Homo sapiens: one gene and its partner. The protein of the gene in region 1 purifies or fractionates together with the protein of each later gene. This does not show direct contact. Each region holds a gene or a part of one and is shown on either strand. Other genes may lie near its edges. The genes, in order: NTRK2 and PAX5.

Evidence for each region.
Region 2: the proteins of NTRK2 (region 1) and PAX5 purify together in Homo sapiens (affinity purification with western blotting; one study listed by BioGRID). This does not show direct contact.

What each region holds. Positions count from the first base shown.
Region 1 is NC_000009.12:84,725,162-84,728,982, forward strand, and holds part of NTRK2 (BDNF/NT-3 growth factors receptor isoform a precursor), read left to right. Parts: intron 1-2,492; coding exon 2,493-2,798; intron 2,799-3,821. UniProt on the Homo sapiens protein: Receptor tyrosine kinase involved in the development and the maturation of the central and the peripheral nervous systems through regulation of neuron survival, proliferation, migration, differentiation, and synapse formation and plasticity.
Region 2 is NC_000009.12:36,961,172-36,964,992, reverse strand, and holds part of PAX5 (paired box protein Pax-5), read left to right. Parts: intron 1-3,821. UniProt on the Homo sapiens protein: Transcription factor that plays an essential role in commitment of lymphoid progenitors to the B-lymphocyte lineage. Fulfills a dual role by repressing B-lineage inappropriate genes and simultaneously activating B-lineage-specific genes.

The DNA of each region.
Region 1 (3,821 bases):
TGTGTAAGTGTATGTCTGACTTACACACGTGTAGACCCATGGCCATAGCTGGTATCAATATGCTGGTTAACACTCACTCATAGCACACATTCAGTGTGTGATTGCTGGAGTGAATGATTGAAATCATCAGCTGTAATCCTTTATCATTGTTAGTACAATCACTATGCCCAGTGGGTACTAAACTCATAATTTCTCATCATTTTGACCCACTCAGAAGCCTGAAGTCAATGTTATCTCCAAACATATGCAAGCACTTTCAACTGTATGTCCTTAAATCAGCACCTAACCCAAAATTCATTTGAGCATGGTGGAAGGAATGATGGGCCCTGGGTGTGGGGACCTGGGCTGGTGGGAGGAAGGTAAGTGTGGCCCCTGCCCCACTGTGGTCCTTGTAGTGGTTGGTTCATAGCACAGGTCTACAAGTGTGTGTATCTACACATGTATGGACCTTATTTTGTGTAATATATATATATGTACATTATATATATTATATATATATTATGTATATATATATGCATATGTATAATATATATAGGGTCTCCCCAAATTATATTTTAATTGAATTTTTATAGATGAAGTCACATATTAAAAACTTTTGTTTTCCAAAGACTATTTTAAGGAGGCCTGTGAGAGATATTTGGTAAAGCAAACAATTAAACTTTGCCCATTTAAATTTAGTAATATCACATTTCTCAGAGTGAGGGACATAGTCACAACATACATGTGCAGAGTTCAGCTGCACAGGTGCTCAGTTGAGAGGAATGTCACTGGTAACTGGAAATCTTTCCGTAAATTATGAAAGTGAATTGGGTCCTTTTATCGGCTTTGCTTCTTCCTAGGTAGTACTGTGGGAGGATTTACCTGAATACAAGTAAGGGGGTAATATCAGATTACCTGCTTTCTATTAAAAATATCCAAACTTGAGTTTTTTTCTCAGTTTCAGGTTAATATCTGTATGGTCACTAGGCTCTGAAAAATTGACCTTATCTGTCATAGTTTAGACAAAGAGCAGAAGCAATAAATTATAAATAATATTAACAACTGGCTGGGTGTGGTGGCTCACGCCTGTAATCCCAGCACTTTGGGAGGCCGAGGCGGGTGGATCACTTGAGATCAGGAGTTCAAGACCAGTCTGGGCAACATGATGAAACCCCGTCTCTACTAGAAATACTAATATTAGCCGGTCACGATGGCAGGCGCCTGTAATCCAAGCTACTCGGAAGGCTGAGGCATGAGAATCGCTTGAACCTGGGAGGCAGAGGTTGCAGTAAGCTGTGATCGTGCCACTGCACTCCAGCCTGGGTGGCAGAGTGAGAATCTGTCTAAAAAAACAAAAAACAAACTAAAAATATTAACAACCAAGATAACCAGTGCAGAGACCCCACTCAGAGGGTTTGTCTGTTCCCTGGCTACAATACCTTAGATTTTTTTCTCCTCTTGTTTGATGAACACATACAGTCAAGAAGCAGTGCCTGAGAGGGAAGGGCCACTGTATTAAACATCAGGATTCAAGATTCTTGTTCCAGATCTGCCTTGCTCAGTAACCTTGATGAGCTCACTTAACCTCATTGCACTTTGGTTTCTTCATCTGAAAAAAATGATGCTATTAGATCTCAAAGGTCTTTTCCAGTCCTTGATTTTGTAATTACCAAAGCCAGACTACATTAAAATGAACAGATGAAGCATTTTAAATACCCTCACTTAGGATAAGTACTCTGTTTAAAAATTCTACTTGATAATGTTTGTTTCCCCAAAGCATAAAGTGCTTTATATCTAAAGTTGAAATAATCCCTACTCTGTCCAGGCTTAGATTGGACCCCAAACATTTAAAAGATCTAAACATTGGCATCTAGGATCCTAGCAAAAATGGACAACACTATCATGAAATGTGATACTTTCAAAGAGTATTTACTATTGACAATCAGTAATAAATGTTGATTTGTTATATTTATAATAATTCATCATCAGCAGCAACATTTATTGCATTGATCAGTTTGATCTGTTTTCGAAGTTATGTGAGATCAGGGCTTCAGGCAAAATTTTAAAAGTCATTTTTGTTATTTAGGAAAGAAGTGCTATCAAAAAGTATTCATTATTTTATTATTTTGAGTTTTTTTGGTGATGAATCTGTATAATATCAAGATACAGATATTAGAAACCAAAGTCAACTTCAAATGAACTCTTTCCGCTGTCAGAAATCTCTTGGATCTGTTTGGAGCTGGTTTTCACTTATACTGAATAGATTTGAGAAATGACTGTAATGCAGGGGTCTTAAGTAGAACAGAGAAAGGAGTCTCTCTGAAGCTCTCTTTGGGGAGTTACATCCACCCTGATGATGATACAAAATACTGATGGATTCCAGAGTTTCTGATGATGTGTTTTTCTAAGCCAAACAATGGTTGAGTAAAATTCCCTATCAATGACACAGACATCTCGAGATGGGGAGAATTCTGAGCTTTCTGATGCTATTAACTCTCTCTTTTTCAATTTAGTTGCACCAACTATCACATTTCTCGAATCTCCAACCTCAGACCACCACTGGTGCATTCCATTCACTGTGAAAGGCAACCCCAAACCAGCGCTTCAGTGGTTCTATAACGGGGCAATATTGAATGAGTCCAAATACATCTGTACTAAAATACATGTTACCAATCACACGGAGTACCACGGCTGCCTCCAGCTGGATAATCCCACTCACATGAACAATGGGGACTACACTCTAATAGCCAAGAATGAGTATGGGAAGGATGAGAAACAGATTTCTGCTCACTTCATGGGCTGGCCTGGAATTGACGATGGTGAGTAACTGACACTTTTGTATGTGGGGAGAAGATAAAGTCTATCATTCACCTGTTGACAAAATCATGTATACAATAAGCCATCCCCCAACCTAGTGGCTTAAAACTCCATTATTTAGTGTTGCTCATGGATCCATAGGTCAGCGGAGTGGTTTTATTTTGCATGTATTTATTGTGGAATTCAGGGTCATGAAGCAGCAGCTACATAGGAGATGTGCCTGTTATGATAAGTGTGGAGTGAAAGAGGACAACTGCAACGATGTGAGGCTTCCTAAGGCCTAGATTCAGGGCTGGTGCACTGGACTGTCTCTTCAGCTTATCTGCCATTGGCCAAAGCAAGTCACAGGGCCAAAGCCAAGTTAAGGGGCAGGGAGTTGTACTCCTCCCAAGAAGGTGATGAGGAAATTAATAATTTTGAACAGTTATCTGATACACACTGGATTAATAACTACTCCAGGATGCTTGGGTATCTTATGAGAAAAGGGTTATTATTATTATTTCCATCACTGTTGCAAGTATTTAATGAGATTTTGTACCCACAATGGCAAAACCCATGCAAAACCGCAAGCGCAGGAACTGTGTATGGTTGGCTCGTGATGCATTTAAGATTTATTTTCTAGCCTCTTACCTAATTCAAAAAGGAGAATTCTGGTTTCTCATCCATGGATGAGAAATTAGTGTCTTGGACTGTTTTGCTTACCCGGGCTGACTGAGCTGAGTGATTCTTTTATTGGCTCCGGAGCTGTTTTCCTAGGAGTGGTAATAGTGCTTCTCTGGCCAAAGGCTAGGACTGCGGAAAGGATGGCTAGCATCAGGGGTCTACTCTGGGCACAGCAGGAGCGTGTCAGTGTGAGCTTCAGGAACAGTGGGACAAGTGTCATGCATTTACCTGCTTCAGATGCTGTCCTTCAGTGGAGTGTTCTTACCTACTCAGTCTCATTGCCCAAATGCTTGCTACCAATGTGGTGGCCAAGGCCTGTGTTTGGATGTTGGGAGCTGTACATGAATAGAGTTCCTCATCAG
Region 2 (3,821 bases), about 48 Mb from region 1:
GCAGGAACGAGGAATGGAGAGAGCCGGTGTGGTTGTGGCTCAGGGATGGGCGGGCGATGATGCTGGGGAGGTGGGCCTGGTCTTGTAGACTGGGTTGAGGATTTTAGTCTTTCTCTTACAAGTCGAGTGACACCTCTGTTGGGTAGGACATGGTTATGGTGCTGGGCATAGCCGCCCCCACACACTCTAGATCTTGGACTTCAGGGAGGAGAGTCTGTTTCTATCACAAGCACCCTCTCTGCTCTGCTCAGAGCCCTTCTGAGAGACGGCAGAAGGCACATTTTCTCTGACACGGGAGGAGAGTGAGAGGGGCCTCGATCAGGAAACCTTCCTGGATGAGGCCTGTCCTTCCCTCCAGAATGTGGAAGAAAGTTTATCTTCTTTTTTTTTTTTTTTTTGTGAGCTGGAGTTTTGCTCTTGTTGCCCAGGTTGGAGTGCAGTAGTGTGATCCTAGCTCACTGCAACCTCCACCTCCTAGGTTCAAGTGATTCTCCTGCCTCAGCCTCCTGAGTAGCTGGGATTACAGGTGCCTGCCACCACGCCCGGCTAATTTTTTTGTATTTTTAGTAGAGATGGGGTTTCACCATGTTGGCCAGGCTTAGTCTTGGACTCCGGACCTCAGGTGATCCACCCTCCTTGGCCTCCCAAAGTGCTGGGATTATAGGTGTGAGCCACTGCGCCCAGCCAGAAGGTTTATCTTTTTTCTTTTTTTGAGACAGAATCTTGTTGTGTCGCCCAGGCTGGAGTGCAGTGGCGCGATCTCGGCTCACTGCAAGCTCCACCTCCCGGGTTCGCGCCTTTCTCCTGCCTCAGCCTCCCGAGTAGGACGGACTACAGGCACCCGCCACCATGCCCGGCTAATTTTTTCTATTTTTTAGTAGGGGCAGGGTTTCGCCGTGTTAGCCGGGATGGTCTTGATCTCCTGACCTCATGATCCGCCTGCCTCGGCCTCCCAAAGTGCTGGGATTACAGGCATGAGCCACTGCACCCGGCCAGAAAGTTTATCTTCTAATGGCTGACAAGATCATGTAATTTTAGGGGTAACAGGAGCCACAGAGGCAAGATTTCAACCTGTTGTTTTTTTAGAGGCCCAGAGAGAGGACAGGGCATGTCTGAGGTCACCCAGCAAGTGAACAGGGAAGAGCGGGGATCCAGGCCTCTGCACTCCACCTGGCCTCTGCAGCACAAGTGTTTCTGTGAACCCCTTATTCACACAGACACTCCGTGTGAGACTCCCTCTGTGTTTCACATGACCGTCATGGAGACTCAGAATCTGCACCATAACTCCTTTAGCTCAGAGTGCCCAGGAAGACCACGCAGCCTGCAAGACCTCATCCCTGAGTGGTCTGGAAGCCGCCCATGGATTCACTCACTCACCTGCTCACATGCCACTCCTCTAACTTCTTCCCTGAACGTGGGCTGGGAGCCAGGCACAGTGCCAAGTGCTCATCAGCTCTGTCCAGTCTCGCAGGGGCAGCGTGCTGTGGACTCAGAGCCCGCAGGACAAGAGAGACTGTTCAGAGGGTCCTGATGAGGTGTCAGCCAGAGAGGGGGATGTTACCTGGGTTGGGAGCATCAAGGACAATGGCACTGAGGGGGCAGTGTTGGATGGGGGGCTTGAAGGACAGGTCCCATGGGCTCATGGAGAGATGGGGTCTGATGGGGAGGAGACCTGATTACAAACTCTGTGAGGACTCAGCATCTCCAGTGTCCTTCAGAATGAGCAGGCACGTCTGCAGGCCTGTCTCTGACTGTGCGCTCTGAGACGGCGACTGCAGGCGAACTGTGTGGCAGGATAATGACTGACCCAGTGTTTTCTGGTTAATCTGCTTCACCTCCCTGTAATGTGTTTTAATGAGGAGAGATGGAAGGTGAGGAGACGGGGCTGCCCTGCACCCACACACAGGCACTGGACTATGAATGACATACCCTCGTGCCCGATTCCCAATCACTTTGGACAAATGATGCCTGAGCAAGGGGCCGCAGGCTGGGAAGGGATGTCAGTCAAGGGTACAGGTTCCTTGAGCCCCTCATGCTAGCTCTCCAAGAGGTGAATGTTCCACAGGCCTCGCCTGTGAGCCCCAGCGTGGCATGGCGGTGGTGACAGGAAGGGGGCCTGAGGTGCTGGCCGCGGAGGCTGGCTGCCTCTTCCATTTTCGAGCAGATTGAGCTGTCTCAGTGTGTGTCTCTGTGGCCTAGTGCCCTGGATGGGGGCCTTGCTGTCACTTTCGCTGAGCAGCTTGGTGGGGAACAAAGAGCACTTACTGGCCTTGGGGTCGGGAAGCTTGATTTGAGTCCTAGCTCTGCCCTGCCGAGCAAGTCACTATTTTTCTGGGCCTCAGTTTCCATATCTGTGGTAGAAGTGATCATGATTTTGATGACGACAACAACAAGAACAGCTGCAGCAGCCGAAACCGAACGTGACGACAGCGATCCTCCTCACCTACACACCACAGCGTTCAGTTCACAAAGACCGTTCACATCCATCCTCTCATTGGACCCCCGAGGCAAATGCCTGCCAAACAGGCTGGGCATGATTCGGGAGCCCCATTGTATAGACTAGAACATTTTTTTTCACAGATTGTTTATTCAAGGAGTTTCCAAGATTGTTGAACCGCAGAGCTGGAATCTCATCTCAGGGTCTTCTGTCTTCATCTCATGCAAGATGGTTCCATGGGCCTCCAGGTCCAGGACGATTCCAGGGGCCAGTTTTCTGGCTAGCTGGTTTCCAGACCTGGCCTATTTCAGTCAGAGTCTGCCTGTCATCCAGAACTCTCAGAACTTGCCATAGGTTTGGAGAGGCCACATCCTCCCGGATCCTCCCACCCTGTCTCCCATGGGAAGAACATTCCTCATTGGGGCCAGGCAGGGGTCCTGACAGTTACTGCTGTTAGCTCGGAGCCTGCCCCACTTGCAGCTTTTCCCGCCAAGATCTACCTGGGTGGGTGGGCCCAGGCTGCTGGCTTTTGTAGGGAAATGTAGTAAACGCTTTGCCCTGGGTGGAAGGCGTTAATGTTGACCACGCCTGGGCAATGAAACACTTCCTTTTCAAAACGGTTATTGAAAAAGCAATTCTGTTTTCCCTACATATGGAGTGAGTAAAAATCACGTTGGAGGAAGAAAAGAAAAGAAAGCTGCTGGTGGCGAGTGTGTGTGCGTGCACGTGTGTATGTGCGTGCGTGTGTGTGTGTATGTTTCCAACAGTGGTATCTGTTTCAGTAAAACTCCCGTTGACGTTGTCGTCGGCGCAGCGCTCCTGTTGGGAGCGGGTCCCTCCTCCGGCGGCCACAGGAAGGCTACGGAGCATAGCCTGCCGTATTTACTCTCGGCAGACTATTAACCAACACCAGGCTATTAATCTGGCTTTTGAGCCTTCACTAAAGCCCATAAAAGCTCACAGTTGTCAAATGGAGTTCATTTTAATTTCCTTTCAATCACAGTAAATTATTCAGGTGATAAATCAGCTGGAGCAGCCTCCTGGCTGTAATAGAAACCCTAATTCCTGGCTAATTATCCATCCCATTGCTGCCAATAGATCAATACGGGTGCAAAATGGAACGGGCCAGGGCCCTCCCTCCCATTGGGCCAGAGACAGAGAGACAGCTGGGGAAGGGGATGTGCTGCTGACCTCCCAGGGAGTTCAAAGGTCACAGGAGGTTAAACTGGGAGAAGATCTGCCCCTTGTCTAACAGAGAAAACCACTAGAAATGCCTCCTGCTCTCATCAGCTGCTTTGCCCCCTCAGTGGTGGCACCTCTCCAGGCTGGTGGGCCGAACAGCATTGCCTTCTCCTGTGGGCATCCTGTTCCTGGGAAGGGGCTG